2 separate regions of the Homo sapiens genome follow, and region 1 is linked to region 2. The links come from fine-mapping of genetic effects on gene expression. A gene starts in region 2. The other region holds a variant in brackets. All regions are shown on one strand. Distances are from middle to middle. Region 1 holds the start of IFI30 (IFI30 lysosomal thiol reductase). Region 2 holds the start of MAST3 (microtubule associated serine/threonine kinase 3).

What was found. PIP is the estimated chance that this variant, and not a neighbour inherited with it, causes the effect.
Region 1: its variant is fine-mapped to the expression of MAST3 in whole blood (TOPMed, PIP 0.97).

Annotation. Positions count from the first base shown.
Region 1 is chr19:18,168,364-18,176,815 of GRCh38, reverse strand. PIK3R2 (phosphoinositide-3-kinase regulatory subunit 2) reads right to left here. Exons shown (of 16, transcript NM_005027.4): 14 at 8,270-8,341; 15 at 7,920-8,090; 16 at 6,284-7,729. The coding sequence ends at 7,522. IFI30 (IFI30 lysosomal thiol reductase) reads right to left here and starts at 3,003. Exons shown (of 7, transcript NM_006332.5): 1 at 2,843-3,003; 2 at 1,594-1,776; 3 at 1,431-1,505; 4 at 1,119-1,211. The coding sequence starts at 2,974. RefSeq lists enhancers at 1,776-2,441, 2,569-2,638, 5,686-5,905, 8,233-8,382 and a silencer at 2,949-3,258. The variant G/A (reference allele first, on the strand shown) is at 5,291.
Region 2 is chr19:18,094,442-18,102,899 of GRCh38, reverse strand. It overlaps MAST3 (microtubule associated serine/threonine kinase 3), which reads right to left and starts at 5,122. Exons shown (of 28, transcript NM_001393504.1): 1 at 5,069-5,122. The coding sequence starts at 5,107. It also overlaps a transcript of IL12RB1 not described here. RefSeq lists a silencer at 4,878-5,387.

The DNA of each region.
Region 1 (8,452 bases), 74 kb before region 2:
TCCTTCCACAGTGTCTCCTCAGTGCCCTCTCCTTGCCACTCTCTCAGCCCTGATCTAACCCTGCAGGACTAGGGTGTCACTAGGTGAGGCCTCTTGGGTGACCCGGATGTTTGATGAATGAATAAATGATTGGAGCCAATGAGTCACTTCTCTGGGAGTCATTCTTCACAATCCCCCGGGGAAGTAGGTGGGGTCTGTCCTATCATCTCCACATCCCATCATCTGTGTCTCTGCACATTCCTGCTCATCCTTCCATGCCCAGCTCAGAAATGCCTCCTCCAGTAAGTCCTCTGTGATCACTCATGCTCCTAAGAGACCTGCATTCATTCCCCTGATTCAGAGATGGAGGCTTCAAGAGGGGAGGCTGGGGCCGGGCGTGGTGGCTTACACCTGTAATCCTTTGGGAGGCTGGGACAGGCGGATAACTTGAGGTCAGGAGTTTGAGACCAGCCTGGCCAACATGGTGAACACTGTCTCTACTAAAAATACAAAAATTAGCCGGGCATGGTGGTGCACACCTGTAGTCCCAGCTACTGGGGAAGCTGAGGCAGGAGGATCACTTAAACTGAGGAGACAGTGGTTGCAGTCAGCCAAGATTGCACCACTGCACTCCAGCCTGGGCGACAGAGCAAAACCCTGTCTCAAAAAAAAAAAAAAAAAAAAAAAAAAAAAAAGGGCTGGGTGCGGTGGCTCACGCCTGTAATCCCAGCACTTTGGGAGGCCAAGGCAGGCGGATCACAAGGTCAGGAGTTCAAGACAAGCCTGACCAACATGGTGAAACCCTGTCTCTACTAAAAACACAAAAATTAGCTGGGCATGGTGGCACACAACTGTAATCCCAGCTACTCAGGAGGCTGAGGCTGGAGAATCACTTGAACCCTGGAGGTGGAGGTTGCAGTGAGCTGGGATTGCGCCACTGCATTCCAGCCTGGGCGACAGAGCGAGACTCTGTCTCAAGAAAAAATAAAAAAATAAATAAAATAAAGAAGGGTAGTTGTTTTCCTGGGCTGCACAGACAGCAGTGGTCAGGGCTAGGACTTGAATTTGGGTCTGCCTGGATGCAGGGAAGGTTACCACCCATGTCCCCCTCCTTGGGTGGAGTGAGGGGCGTCACTCACTAGTGGCAGACTTCTCTCCATGTCCTCAAACTCTTCCATGCAGACAATGGTCAGGAAGGCTAGCTCCATGTCAAGTTCATCCAACACGCAGGCCTGGGGTTTGGAGAGGGGGCAGGAGAGGGCATGAAGAGGGCCTAGGGTACCCTGACACCCTCTCGTAATAATCACCAGTACCCACCCAGGAGATAGGGAATAAAGATGTGATTAAATGGGAGCACACGAGGCAGAAGACAGAGCTGGCATCCTCGTATTTGCCTCCTGTACGTGGGACAGTTTTCCCCCACCCCAGTGTGGGGCCCTGGGGCCGCTCACCTCCACCTTGTTGAATTTGCACTCCTCTTCTCCATGCTGGCACTTGAACTCCCACCTGCCACTGACATTTTGTTCCTGCAAGGCAGCAGGGTGAGAGCCTGCTGGTAGGCTGGGTCCCCTGCTCCCCTGCCCACGTGCCTCAGTTTCCCCAGCGCCCACACACCTGTGCGTTTCCGTAGGGCACCAGCGTGACATTGAGGATCTCCATGACCAACAGCCATGTTGGGAAGAGCTCCCGGATCAGGAAGGCTCGGCAGCCACCGCACAGTGCTTCATAGTAGAGGGTCACATTGACAAGCGGTGCATTGGACTTCTTCAGGGGCCCCCGCAGGTATAGATTGCCTGTCTGTGGATTAGGAAGGCGTGGGAGGCAGGTGTAGCCCTGGGCAGTTCCCCACTTCTCTCAACCCCACTTGGTAGTCTTGTAGAAAGGGGGCTGTGATACGCAATTCATCTTGCACGCCTTCCAGAACTTGCCAGGTGGAATCTTGACTTTGAGACTTTTTTTTTTTTTTTTGAGATGGAGTCTCACTGTCGCTAGGCTGGTGTGCTGCGGCACGATCTCGGCTCACTGCAACACCCGACTCCCTGGTTCAAGCAATTGTCCTGCCTCAGCCTCCTGAGTAGCTGGGATTATAGGCACATGCCACCACACCCAGCTAATTTTTGTATTTTTAGTAGAGACAGGGTTTCTCCATGTAGGCCAGAATGGTCTCGAACTCCTGACCTCGTGATCTGCCTGCCTCAGACTTCCAAAGTGTTGGGATTACAGGCATGAGCCACCGCCTCCGGCCTTGGCCCATGCTCATTTCTTGTCACTTCACCTGGAGACCTTGCCTCTGAGCTGAGCAAGGGATCCACGTGAACCCTTTCCAAGTCCGACTGAATAGAGGCGGCACCTAATAGGTGCTGACTTCCGGCTTCAGCTGAGGGGTGGCGGGTGGCCCATGTCGCTGGAGCGGTGAGCAAGTCGCTCAGCCTCTAGGGCATCTGCCTAATAGGTCCCAAAGACACGCGAGCCCTGCCCTGGCTGGAATGAATGCATCAAGGGTAGCAGCAAGAATGCATGCCGGCGGCCCTTGGCCAGCTGCTGAACTTGTGCCCTGGGCCACAAAAGGAGACCCCAGCTCCTGCCCCAAAAGTACACAGTAGGCGCTCATTGAACCCTTGGGCGGGACTAGGCGGGTGGAGGCAGCTGCGCCTCTCAGATGCGGGATGCGAAAGCGAAACGGCACGGAGGGAGTGTGGCCGCAGCGCCGGGAACTGAACAGGGTTTTTCCAGGAACCCGGCAGGGACAGCGTCCCCTCGGGGCCCTGGTCTTCCCCTGTGAAGTCTGGGGAGAAAGAAGGAGCCGCGTGCCCCGACAGGGCGCCTGTTCCCTCCAGCCTGCCCGCCCTGTCGCCGTCCCTACCTTGTAGTTAACTGGTGGCCCATTCCCAAAGAAGTCTAACGCTTGCAGAGGGGACGCCTGCACCGCCGCCGTGGGGACGTCCAGCAGCAGCAGCAGCGGTGGCAGGAACAGCAGAAGTGGCGACAGGGTCATCGCAGCAGGGGCAAAGGTGTGGCGACTGCAGCGGCTGCCTGGGAAATAAGCGCCTTTAACCAGGCGGCGGTCCCGCCCCTAACCCGGGCCCGCCTCCCGATGCCCACGCCCCTCGGGTCCCGGGCCAGCGTCTCTCCCTCCTCCACTCCTTCCTCTGAGTGTCCCACCCCCACCCCTGCCAGGTGCTGGGTCCCCAGTCACGAGGCCATTGGGCCCCTTGGCAATCAGCCCTGCCCAGGCACGTGAGCCCTGGCGCAAGACTACCTTTAGGGGAGGTGAGGTGGGGCCTTTGAGACAGACACAGGCTGAGAGGAATGGTGGTGTCTCCACGCACCCCTAGACCTTCTAGGGGCGGCTAGGGGACTTGAGGCCCGAGACCCACTCTCAGAGTGGGCCTGTGACCTAACAGGGGTGACGTCGGATGGAGGCTGGGGATGGGATGGAGGCCGGGGTTTTGGGGGAGTAACTGAAATATTCAGGCCCCCGAGAGTGGGCAAGGCCTGTGTGGCCAGGTCTCCTCCCTCCAGTCTCGCCCGTGACCTCCCTCACACCCAACCCCCACATCCTGCCCCTCAACCCTTCCCCCCTCAAACTCCTGACCCCGACGCTCCAGACCCCTCACCGTGGTCCCGTGGGACTGACTCAGGCTTGACCACAGCCACGCCGGAAAGCAGAAGCTGGCGCAGGGAGTGGCGTGTCATTTCTCTAGGGTACCCACCCAGCCCCACTTCTGGCTTGGGGTGAAGAGAACTGGCCTTCCTTCTTTTCATCGTTCAAGGCTTGTGGGGGGTGGGGGGCAACCTGGCCTTCAAGGGACGCCCATGGGGGAGAGAGGCAGCCTGTGCTGTCTGGGATAGGGGTGGGGTGGCTTGGAGTCCACCTGGCTTTGGATTTGAGTGACAGAGCCTCAGCTTTCCCTTCTGTGTAATGGGGAGAAGGATAAGGTTTGGGGAACAAGAGTCACCATGGAGGGCTCAGAGGCAGGTGGGGGAGAGTTGTCCCAGGCTGGGGCTTCTGGATGGCATGGTCAGGCCTTGGTGCCTACACAGGACAGTGGCCCCAACAGTGAAGGCAGAGAGAATAGCCTGGAAAAAAGGCCCAGATGGAGGCTGGAGTGTTGGGGGAATAACTGAGACATTCCAACCCTGCCAGGCCTTACATTCAGGGCAAGACACATCGGATCCTAGGGAAGAAAATGTCCCACACCCAGCTGGAAGATATACCTGAGTCCCCAGCTGTGCCCCCCTCTAGTTGTGGGGAAGACCCTGGCCACACACACAGTAGCTGGTTTGGGAGCCGGAGCTTCTCTGAAGTCCCAGTGGCTGGATGGTCCCCGAGCCCATCCCTCAGACGACCAAACCGTTGGCAAAGGCTCCCCAAGACTCACCACCCCAACTTTGGTGCTTACCCTATGCCGGGTGGGATTGAAGAAATAACCATAAATATAATTGCTACAATTTTTCCAGTAGTTACCAGGCACCAGCCCTATTGGAAGAAATCATAAATGTAACCCTACAATGTATTGCTCTCTGGCTTGGTGCCAGGCATAGAGTGGGCCTACAACCCATTTTATCATTGAACCCTCAGAAGCATCCAGTTGGGGCTGGGGGTAGGTGCTACTGACTCCAGCTGGTAACAAATAAATGGCTGATCAGAGAGGGAAGGCTATTTTGCCAAGGACACACAGCCAGTGGTTGAGTGTTTTTAGAGACCACACGGGATATTCTCTTCCACCCCCAGCTCAGCATAGCTGGGATCATAAAGATGGCAACCTTTCTCCTGTGAGCACCTATGCAGTGAGAGGCACAATCTGGGCTGGAGTTATTTATGGGTTATCTCCAGACAGGACACATGGCAGGGACAGTGCCTGGCAAGGCTAGGGGGCTCTGAGGCTAAGGGAGGCAGGTCCTGTCCCAAGGTCCCAGCAGTAGACTGGGTCAGAGTGGAGGTTTCTTTCTGCACTTGCCCCAGGTTCAGCCTTGTTGGGCCTTGAGAGGTGGCTGTACAAAACAGACAAGGACAGTGAGGCCCCAGGGTTGGGGAGGGCTGAAGGGACAATGACGTCGCAGTGGGGGTGTGGATTCTGGGTGTGATGGGGAGGGTGGTAAACAGGAGTCCAAGTCAAAGACGCCATGAGGCCACGCGTGGTGGCTTACGCGACTCAGGGAGGCTGAGGTGGGAGGATCACTAGAGGCCAGGAGTTTGAGACCCACCTGGAAAAGGGCAAGACCCTTTTTTTTTTTTTTTTTCTTGAGACAGAGTCTCACTCTGTCACCCAGGCTGGAGAACAGTGGCACGATCTTGGCTTGGTGCAGC[G/A]TTGACCTCCCAGGTTCATCTGATCTTCCTATCTCAGCCTCCCAAGTAGCTGGGATTACAGGCATGCGCCACCATGTCTGGCTAATTTTTTTTTGTATTTTTAGTGGAGACCAGGTTTTACCATGTTGGCCAGGCTGGTCTCAAACTCCTGACCTCAAGTGATCTGCCTGCCTTGGCTTCCCCAAGTGCTGGAATTACAGGTGTGAGCCACTGCACTCGGCAAGATCTTGTTTCTAAAAAAATTTAAAAATAATTAGCTGGACATGGTGACACACACCCGTAATCCAGTGACTCTAAAGGCTGAGATGAGAGGACTGCTTGAGGCTGGGAACCAGGAGCTTGAGGCTGTGAGCCGCGAGCTGTGTTCGCACAACTGCACTCCAGCCTGGGTGACAGAGTGAGAGACCTTGACTCTTTAAAAAGAAACACAAAAAACCCCACAGGGCTTTTGCTCAGCGTCTCCTGGGACCCGGCGGGCTGTGCATGGGAGTGGGTGAGGAGAGGTCAGAGAAGAGCCTCCAATGCTGGCTGGAGGTGCCGACGACTTGAGAACATCAAAGACACGGGAGACTCCTCCCTGTGGCATGGGAGGGTTTTGACTTTTGACGCCACTTGGCAATGAATGAGGAAGCTGTGGATCAGGGAGGGGATACAACTTTCCCAAGGACACAGCTGATGGTTGCGACAGGATTCAAATTTGGGGGCGGTGGGCGGGGGAAGCAGCTTGGAAGCACTTGAGGGGCTGGATGGGGTCTGGGGTCCCCTGAGCAGTCGGGAGCTCAGGATTCGAATCTCTCTCCTGTATGACCTTGGGCACTGCCTCAACCTCTCCAGGCTTGAGCAGCTAAACTGGGGGAGGGAGGGGTTGTCGGGTCTCAGAGGGGCTTGGAGTTAAACCCACGGGTCCGACCTGCTGTGACCCCCGTAGACACCAGGGTCCCCGACACGCAGAGGTGGTACTGAAGCCCAGTCACTGACAACAGAATCACCCACGACGTTTGATGTTTTATATCATATCAATAACAACGTACCGTACAAAACCTGCCTCCCAGCTCGTGGGGCAGGCAGTGTGGTGGCCAAGGGCAGCGTAGAAAACCAGGGCTCTTGTCCCAAAAGAGGAGAGGAAAGAGGGTTTTGCAGTCAAGGAAAAACAGAATCAAAACCCAACATGATCGAAGAGAAGCCCTGAATCTGCATCAGAGGGAGGGGCCGTGGGCAGTGTCGCAACTTGGCCACTGCGGCGGCACCAGTACGGGGAGCTGTGATTCCTAGGAGGGGTTGGGGCCAGCTCACAAGTTTATTTATTTATTTTTTTGAGACGGAGGAGTCTCCCTCTGTTACCCAGGCTGGAGTGCAGTGGCACGATCTCTGCTCACTGCAACCTCCATCTCCTGGGTTCAAGAGATTCTCACGCCTCAGCCTCCCAAGTAGCTGGGATTACAGGCGGCCGCCACCACGCCCGGCTAATTTTTGTATTTTAGTAGATGCGGGGTTTTGCCATTTTGGCCAGGCTGGCCTCCAACTCCCGACCTCAAAAGATCCGCCCGTCTTGGCCTCCCAAAGTGCTGGGATTACAGGCATGAGCCACCGTGCCTGGCCTGCGAGTTTAATTATTTTTTCGGGGGTGGGTGAACTTCTCGCAGCGGCCCCCTTGTGGGGGTAACCCGGTGGCGGGTTTCACTTCGGGGTTTGGAGGGGAAGTTGGAGTCTGTGGGGCGGGTCCCGCCCGGCCCCGAATGTCACGGCCGAGGTTCTCGGAAGCAGCAGAGTGAAGTTCCTTCCTGCCCTGACCCCAGGTCTATGGCTTAAAAATCAGGGTGCCCAGGCTGGGGCCGCGCAGCCCAGGGGCCCTCTGTAAACATGGCAGGTGCAGCCAGAAGGGGCTTCCGGGACCCCGGGGGACCTGCGGTGGGCAGGGCAGAGGGTCAGGGTGACCAGAGCCATGGAGAGGGCAATGCCCGGAGGACACGTAGATATGGGGTGGGGGAGTTAGGACCCCCAACATGGAGAGAGACAGGGGCCAAGAAAGACAGAGAAAAGGAGACAGAGGGAGATCTGGAGAATGGGGGAGGGAAGGAAAGAGAAAGAGGGTGAGAGAACCCCAAACAAGAGCCAGAGCCGGAGAAATGAGGACCCCTGGATGTGGCTGGTCTGGTCCGTGGCTCCCGCCGCCGCAGCCTCCGGCGCAGACGGGCCCAGGGGCGGCTCTGCTTGGGGCGGGTCCTCGGTGCTCAGCGGGCGGCAGGCGGCGGGCCGGGGCCCGGGGCGCGCACTGGGTGCGCCAGGGTGACGGTGAGCGCGTCGTTGTGCTGCACCAGCGAGGCGTGCTGGTAGTGCAGCACCAGCTCCTTCAGCGACCCGTACAGGTTGTAGGGCTCCGCGAAGCCGAAGCCGGTGGCCGTGCGGTAGATGACGCAGTGCTTGGTGTCGCCGTCCACTCTGTGGGGGCAGACGAGAGGGGGAGTCGGAAGGCTGGCCTCCCCGCCAAGCTTTCCCCGTTCCAGGGCCGCGTGCTCCCCTGTCCCGGATGACCCCACCAGGGACTCCTTCCCAAGGCCTGGCACGCGGCAGGCATTCAATGAGAGCTCTGGGAGGGACGCGGGAATCCCCACCGCTGCGGTCCACTCACACCACGGAGCAGGCGTAGCAGCCCCGCTGGCTGCTCTCGCGGATGAGGAAGGTGCCATCCCGCTTGCCACTCAGCATCTCCTCTGCCTGCGTGCGGTTGATCTTGCCCACGTACCAAGTGCGTTCCTCGTGGTGCGGGAGATCGTCCTCGTCCTCCATGAGTGCGTACTGGCTGGGGTGGGGGGCGGTGGCGGGGAGGGCCCTGGTCACTCACCTGCCAGCCTCCGAGGCTCCCCAGCTGCCTGGACAACTTTTCCTCCCTGGTGAACTCCTACTCATTCTTCGAAACCCACCCCAAATGGCCCCCTCCTCTGGGAAGCCCTCCCTGCCTCCCTCCAGACGGTCACTCACTCCTCAGTCTCATTTTTAATCCCCAGCCACTCGTTGATTTTCTTCTGCCGGGCGCCTTTCTGGGTGAGCCACCTGAGAAGGAACAGGAAAGGTGGGCTTGTGCAGTTGTGTGGGTGCTGAGCCCACAGTGGGCCTGTCCGGTGGGAGGCAGGGTCTGGCTGAGGAGAGAGGGTTCTGGGTACA
Region 2 (8,458 bases):
AGCACCCCCATACTGGAGGGATTAAGAGAGACCCGAAGCAGCTGGGTGCTGTGGCTCATGCCTGTAATCCCAGCACTTTGGGAGGCTGAGGCGGGAGGATCACTTAAGATCAAGAGTTTGAGCCAGGTGCGGTGGCTCACGCCTGTAATCCCAGCACGCTGGGAGGCCAAGGTGGGCGGATCACAAGGTCAGGAGTTCAAGATCAGCCTGGCCAACATAGTGAAACCCCGTCTCTACTTAAAATACAAAAATTAGCTGGATGTGGTGGCAGGCGCCTGTAGTCCCAGCTACTCGGTAGGCCGAGGCAGGAGAATCCCTTGAACCCCGGAGGCGGAGGTTGCAGTGAGCCAAGACCACACCATTGTACTCCAGCCTGGGTGACAGAATGAGACTCCGTCTCAAAAAAAAAAAAAAAAAAGGTGGCCGGGCGCAGTGGCTCATGCCTGTAATCCCAGGACTTTGGGAGGCTGAGGCAGGCAGATCACCTGAGGTCAGGAGTTCGAGACCAGCCTGACCAACATGGAGAAACCCCGTCTCTACTAAAAATACAAAATTAGCAGGATGTGGTGGCGCATGCCTGTAATCCCAGCTACCTGGGAGGCTGAGGCAGGAGAATCGCTTGAACTCGGGGGCAGAGGTTGCGGTGAGCCGAGATCGTGCCATTGCACTCCAGCCTGGGCAAGAAGAGCGAAAGAGTGAAACTCCGTTTCAAAAAAAAAAGGCCAGGCGCAGTGGCTAACACCTGTAATCTCAGCACTTTGAGAGGCCGAGGTGGGAGGATCACGAAGTCAGCAGATGGAGACCATCCTGGCTAACACGGTGAAAGCCCGTCTCTGCTAAAAATACAAAAAATTAGCCGGGTGTGGTGGCAGGAGCCTGTAGTCCCAGCTACTCGGGAGGCTGAGGCAGGAGAATGGCATGAACCTGGGAGGTGGAATGAGCGGAGATCACGCCACTGCACTCCAGCCTGGGCGACAGAGCAAGACTCCGTCTCAAAAAAAAAAAAAAAAAAAAAAAGAGTTTGAGGCCATTCTGGCCAACATGGTGAAACACCATCTCTACTAAAAAATATAAAAATTATATTAGTCGGGTGTGGTGGCGCTCGCCTGTAATCCAGCTACTCAGGAGGCTGAGGCTGTGAGAATCGCTTGTATCCAGGTGACGGAGCCTGCAGTGAGCCAAGATGGCGCCACTGCACTCCAGCCTGGGCCACCGCACTCCAGCCTGGGCGACAGGGCAAGATCCTGTCTAAAAAAAGAGAGACTCAAAGGGAGAAGAGGGGTTGGAGGCACACAGAGAGGAGAGCTAAGGGGCTTCCTGGAGTAGGGGGTGTCAAACAAAGCCTGCAGGCACATGGAAAACACCAGTCCATGCCCAGCAAACAGCACGTGCAAAGGGAGGTGAGACTCAGCCTGCTGGGCACCAAGCCCGGTTGGAAGTTCGATGCCCCTGGAATTAAATGGGAGAGAAGTCAGCATGGACCACATGGCACCAGCCCCAGGGCTTCCAGGAGGAGGAGGAGGAGGAGGAGAAGGAGAAGGAGGAGGAGGAGGAGGAGGAGGAAAATAAGTGGAAGCTGTCCATGAGAAAGCAGGATCACCTTGGAGGGCTGAACCTAGAGGAGCCACCCCAGTAGCGGCAGAGACAAAAGTCCAGATACAGGCTCTAGCCCTTCTCTGCCGGGGGATGCTCTGTTTGTGGGACCTGGTGTTTTGAAATTCGGTCATGTGTAAAGCAAAGGTCCAAGTAGGAGATGATAAATGTAATAAGATAATAGTAGTAGTAGTAATAACAGCTCACGTTACCCGGTGCCTGCACACGTTATGCGTGAGGCTGAGTTTAACCCAAATTGGGAAGGTCTCCACCTCCTCCCTGGACCCAGGGCTGTCGCAAACTGGCCGCCCGCGGGCCAGGCCGGATCCTTTTTCAGACCTTTCCTGCACACAGCCAACAGCACGCCTCACATTGTCACCACCGGAGAGGACGCCCTGGGCTATGCGTCTGGATTGGCCGGTCAGCACCCGTTTGTGAATGGACTCTTTGGCCTTTGGCCTCCAGGAAATCTGATTGGCTCGCATCAGCGATCTACCCCCTGATTGGCTGGGGTGCTCCTGGACCATTAACAAGGTTTCCAGTCAAAAGAGACCCCAAACTGGGGCTGATGAAGACAACACCTTCACGTGCCAGATTGGTTAGAATTTCTCTGGCTTCCTGGTGGGTACTTCCCTCTTTGGGCCTCAGTTTCTTCCTTTGAAAAGTGGAACTAATAATAGCACTGACCACTCGGGCTGTTGGGAGAATTGAATGCATGAGAGGGCTTAGCCTGTTAATATGAACGGTTATTCCCACTTTACTATTATTTTATTATTATTTTAATCTTCTTCCACTTGGACCTTTATTTTTATTTTTGAGATAGGGTCTCGTGATCATGGCTCACTATAGCCTCAAACTCCTGGGCTCAAGAGATCCTTCTTGGCTGGGCGCGGTGGCTCACGCCTGTAATTCTAGCACTTTGGGAGGCCGAGGTGGGCGGATCACCTGAGATCAGGAGTTTGATACCAGCCTGGCCAACATGGCGAAACCCCGTCTCTACTAAAAATACAAAAATTAGCCGGGCGTGGTGACATGTGCCTGTAATCCCAGCTACTCGGGAGGCTGAGGCAGGGAGAATTACTTGAACCCGGGAGGTGGAGGTTGCAGTGAGCCGAGATTGCGCCACTGGACTCCAGCCTGGGTAACAGAGCATGATTCTTTCTCAAAAAAAAAAAAAAGAGAGAGAGAGAGAGATCCTTCTGCCTCAGCCTCCTTGAGTAGCTGGGACTACAGTCATGAGCCACCACACCTGGTACACTTAGACTTTCATTCCATGCTCCTTCCTGGCTTCCTGCCCTTTTTGATTCCCCCACTCCTGCTCCTAGCCCTCCAGAGGAGTCTTCCCAGCCCCTCAATATGGGCATGTCCTCTCCTGCTCCAGCACCTTCCATAGCTCCCCATCACCCTAGGGGGAAAGTCTAACCTCTTCAAAATCAGCACTGAAGGCCCTGGAAGCATTAAGTCCTGGCCATCAGCCTCTAGTGCTAAGAAATAGGTTCAAGTTCTTGTTTCCCCATATAAACAGGTAAGAAAGGCTACATGCCTCTGGGCCTTTGCACGTGCTGTGGCCTCTGCCCGGAATGCCCTCATTCAGTCGGGGAATCCGTGCTCATCCCTCCACCTTCGTGGAGGGACGCCTGTGCTGGGTTGGTTTGGAGAGGAAGCCGGAACTGCGTGGGTTCAAATCCTGTCTGACTCTGTCACCTATACTTTGTGAAACCCGGACAGTGGCTATGCTTCTCTGAACCTCAGTTTCCCCTTTTGTAACATAGAACTTACCATCAGGAAATGTTTGACCCCCCCACCATGGAACAGGCCCCACTTCTTGACGTCAGCAGCACCCCCATTCGCCTACCCGGAGGCGGTTTCTCTATTTTAAGAGGCTGCGGGCGGGTTGGCATCTAACTGGGGCTGGAGGCGGGACTGCCCCCCCACCAACACCACGCTGCTCGCCAATCCCGCCCCGCCCCCTCCTTTCCGCCCAAGTCCCCCACTCTTGCCTCTGGCCTCAGCGCCTCCAGTTCTGCCCCACCCCCGCGCGGCCAGAGACCGGGTGTCTCTGATCTGCAGCTCAGCCCGTGCCTTCCCTGACCACTCCCGACCTGGCTTCCCATCACCTGCTGAGTTCGCAGTCCCGCAGCTACCGGTGCGGCTCCAGGTTGGAGACCCGCCGGCCCCATTCCTCTCACCCCCTCAACCCGCCCGGAGCTAACCTCAGTCCCCGACCCCCACCCCACCTGCTCAGTCCTCCCTAGGTTCCAGCTTCTGTCAACCTCTTTCATTTCCCTAAATACCGCCCCCCGCTGCAATGCCTCGCCACCCTTGGCTGCCTCCTCTACCCCAGGGCTCCCAGCAATGACTGGGTCAGGCGCCTCCTTCACTTGCTGTGAGTCCCTTATCACAACTGATCACTCCGTGGGGTCACCGCTGCTCTGGCGTCTACCTCCCCCAACAGGTTGGGGTTTCTAGGAGGGCAGCTCCAGAGGTTGCAGAACACTCCGCTGCCTCTCCAGAGCCAGGCACACAGCAGGCGCTCCATAAATGTTCGTTGGGTAAGTGCTGAATCCCAGGTTCCCTACCTGAAAACTTGGTGGCTTCTTAAGGGTGTGGTCTAAGTCCCAGAGGAAAATGGCCAAATCTTAATTCCTGTTTTTCTTTTCTTATAATGGGGACACTGAGGCCCAGAGAAGTCAAAGGGTGGCTGCCCGGGGTCATGTAGTCCCTGTGTGGCTTCAAACTTAGGCTTCTGCTGTCCCCGACGCCTGTGTCCCTACCTCCTGATGACACAGCCTCCTAAACATAAACTCAGTAAAAGGAGGACCCTATGGCTCATTGGAAAACTGAGGCCCAGAGAAGCAAGGGTGCCCTCCCCCCAGGTCACACTGCTGGTTGGCAGCGCCTTGTGCCGTAAGAGAGCTGGTTGAGGGCGCAGATCGAATCCCAGCTAGGCGACCTCTGGAGAGTGGCTTTCCGGGACTAGAGCCTCAGTTTCCTTATTCTGACAAATGGGCGCCTGACAGCCCCAACCTCCCCAGGTCGTCGTAGGGCTGAGCTGAGGGTGTACAGTGGTGCAGCGACGACCCAAGGAGGTATTAATACATATGAACTCATATTAATACATCGCTAGTAATAGGACTAAAACAACCATGAACATATGGTGAGCTCTCTGGCTGCTGTTGCTAGCATTATTATTAGAACAGCTGGTGGGGAGGGGCAGAGCCCTCAGCCTCTTCCTCCCACGCCATCGCTTGGAGCCTCAGTTTCCCTAGATGTCCAAGGGGGCACCTTCCCCCTTCCCACCATGAGAAAAAGCACTTTGAGAAGCGGGTGGTCAAAAAGAAGCGATCTGAGCGTTCCCCACCCTCTGCCTCAGTTTCCCTACAGCCCGTGAAGGCCCCGCCCCTCCCGGCACCTTTCAGGCCGCGTCCACTTGGCCGCGCCCTCTGCCTTCCGCCCGCCCGCGCAGGGGCCTCACCTGGAGCCCGCGGCGCCGCAGGAGGCTCGACTCGTCCATGGCCCGGGAGTCCGCGCCGCCAGGCCCGCCCCCGGCCCCGCCCCGGCCTGCCAGGCCCCGCCGCCAGGTGCCATTGGCCAGGCCGGTCAGCTGACACGGCCTGGCCCCGCCCCTCCCGGGGAGCCCGACCACAGGGCCCCGCCCCCACTGGGCGAGCTGGCCCCGCCCCTCCAGCAGAGCGCAGAAGTAAATATTTTGCATGAATCCTCTCAGAAGTAAGGCAGCATCGTTCAGCCCCATTTTGCAGATGAAGAAACTGAGGCTAAGATAGGTTAATCAATATGCCCAGCGCATTGGCCGGGCGCAGTGGCTCACGCCTGTATCCCAGCACTTTGGGAGGCCGAGGTGGGCAGATCACTTGAGGTCAGGAGTTCGAGATCACCCTGGCCAACATGGTGAAACCCTGTCTCTACTAAACAAAAAAAACCAAAACAAAACAAAAAAAAAATTACTTGGGGGTGGTGACGCGCGCCTGTAATCCCAGCTACTCAGAAGACTGAGGCAGGAGAATCGCTTGAATCCAAGAGGCGGAGGTTACAGTGAGCCGGGATAGCGCCGCTGCACTCCAGACTGGGCGACAGAGCGAGACTCTGTCTCAAAAACAAAAACAAAACAACAACAAAAAATGTGCCCAGTACACACAGCAGAACGGGTTCTAGGGTGAGGCGAGTGAGGATCTCACCCCTGTGCAAAATTTAAGGTGGCCCCACAAAACTCAGCCATCAAGAGAAATAATATTTTAAAAACATAAAATTAATGAAAACATTTATGATGAACAAAACATCAAAACTTTTATTTTTTATTTTATTTTTAGAGACGGGGATCTCACTATGTTGCCCAGGCTGGTCTTGAACTCCTGGCCTCAAAAGATCCTTCTGCCTAGGCCTCCCAAAGTGTTGGGATTACAGGTGTCAGCCACCGCATATGGCCAAAACACCAAAACTTTTTTTTTTTTTTTTTAATTTATGAGACGAGTCTCTCTGTTGCCCAGACTAGAATGCAGTGGCATGATCTCGGCAACCCCTGCCTCCTGGGTTCAAGCTATTCTCATGCCTCAGCCTCCCTAGTAGCTGGGACTACAGGTGCCCACCACCACACCAGGCTGATTTTTTGTATTTTTGGTAGAGATGAGGTCTCACCATGTTGGCCAGGCTTGTCTCGAACTCCTGGCCTCAGGTGATTCACCCACCTTAGCCTCCCAAAGTTCTGGGATTGCAGGCCAAAGAGTTTTGGTGTTTTGCCTGGCCAAAACACTAAAACTCTTAAGACATGATCAGACCCTTGTCCTTGCACCACTCAGCCTTGTTTGCCTCCCTTTAATCCTGGCCCTGGTGCCAATAAAACTTTACTTACAAAAGCAGGTAGCCGCTGCAGTTGTCAGTTTCTTTTTTGAGGATGATTGCCTTTTTGCCCTAAGTGTCTCATAAACACCATCTCTCACAGATATTTGAAGATAATTGTTCTACTCCATTTTGCAGGAGGGGAAACTGAGGCTGAGAAAAGCCCAAAGTCCCAAAATAGCACCCACATTTAAAAAAAAATTTTTTTTTTGAGACAGGGTCTCTCTCTGTCACCCAGGCTGGAGTGCAGTGGTGCAATCTTGTCTCATTGCAGCCTCTACCTCCCGGGCTCAAGCGATCTTCCTGCCTCAGCCCCCATACCCCAGCTCCCAGAGTAGGTGGGACCACAGGCACATGCCACCATGCCTGGCTAATTTTTTTGGGTTTTTTTTGTAGAGATGGAGTACCGCCATGTTTCCCGCGCTGGTCTCGAACTCCTGGCCTCAAGTGATGCTCCTGCATCAGCCTCCCAAAGCGCTGGGACTACAGGCATGAGCCACTGTGCCTGGCTTAGCACCTGCATTTTTTCTTTCCCTGGGACTCGCACTTTCTCTGCAGCCGCAGTTGTCTTCGGCTGCCCCACTGTACAGTGTGGACACTGGAGTATGCTTTCAGGCTCGAGGGGACCCTAGGAAGGGTCACTGGGCCTGACTGTCCATGAGGTACTGTAGAATTGCATCAAGTTATGGTGGCCAGATTGAGCAAATAAAAATACAGGATGCCAGGGAAAACTTGTTTTTCTCATACAATTTTAAAAATTGACATATAATTCACATACCATAAAATTCACGCTTTTAAAGTGTGCAATAAATTCAGTGTTTTAAGCATACTCACAGAGTTGTGTAACCATCACCACGATCTGATTCCAGGACATTTGTATCATCCCCAAAAGAAACCCTGTACCTATTAGCAGCCAGTCCTCATTCCCCCTCTCTCAGCCCCTGGCAACTACCAATCTGCTTCCTGTTCTATGAATTTTCCTGTGCTGGATATTTCATAAAAATGAAAACATAACATGTGGCCTTATGTGTCTGGCTTCGTTCAGCATCATGCTTTCAAGATGCACCCATGTTGTGGCAAATATCAGTACTTCATTCCGTTTCATGACCAAATAATATTCCATTGTATATATGTACATGTACATTTTGTTGATCCACTCATTTGTTGGTGGTCACTTGGATTTTTTCACATTTTGGTAGCTATTCTGAATAGAGCTGCTATAAACATTGGCATACAACTTTTTGCATAGATTTATTTCTTTATTTATTTATTTTGAGATGAAGTGTTGCTCTGATGCCCAGGCTGGAGTGCAGTCGCGGGATCTTGGCTCACTGCAACCTCTGCCTCCCAGGTTCAATTGATTCTCCTGCCTCAGCCTCCTGAGTAGCTGGGATTACAGACACCCGCCACCACTCCCAGCTAATTTTTGCATTTTTAGTAGAGACGGGGGTTTCACCATGTTGGCCAGGCTGGTCTCAAACTCCTGACCTTTAAGTGATCCATCCACCTTGGCCTCCCGAAAGGCTGGGATTGCAGGTGTGAGCTACCGCCCCCTGCCTTTGTGGATATATTTTGGTTCTCTTGGGTACTTACCTAGGAATGGACTTCCGGGGTCATATGGTGTAACTCTATGTTTTGGGTTGTTTTGTTTTGTTTTGGGACAGGGTCTTGCTCTTTCGCCCAGGCTGGAGGGCGGAGTAGCTGAGACTACAGGCACATGCCGCCATGCCCAGCTAATTTTTTGTATTTTTTGTAGAGACAAGGTTTCGCCATGTTACCCAGGCTGATCTCAAAATCTTGGGCTCAAGCGATCCTCCTGCCTTGGCTTCCCAACGTGCTGGGATTACAGGCATGAGCCACTGCGCCCAGCAACTCTATATTTTAAATTTGTAAAAGACAACCAGGCTGTTTTCCAAAGCAAACACCCAGTTAAATTTAAATTTCCATAAACAATGAATGTTTTTTCAGTGTAAGTATGCCCCCTTCAGTACTTGGGACATAGTTGCATTAA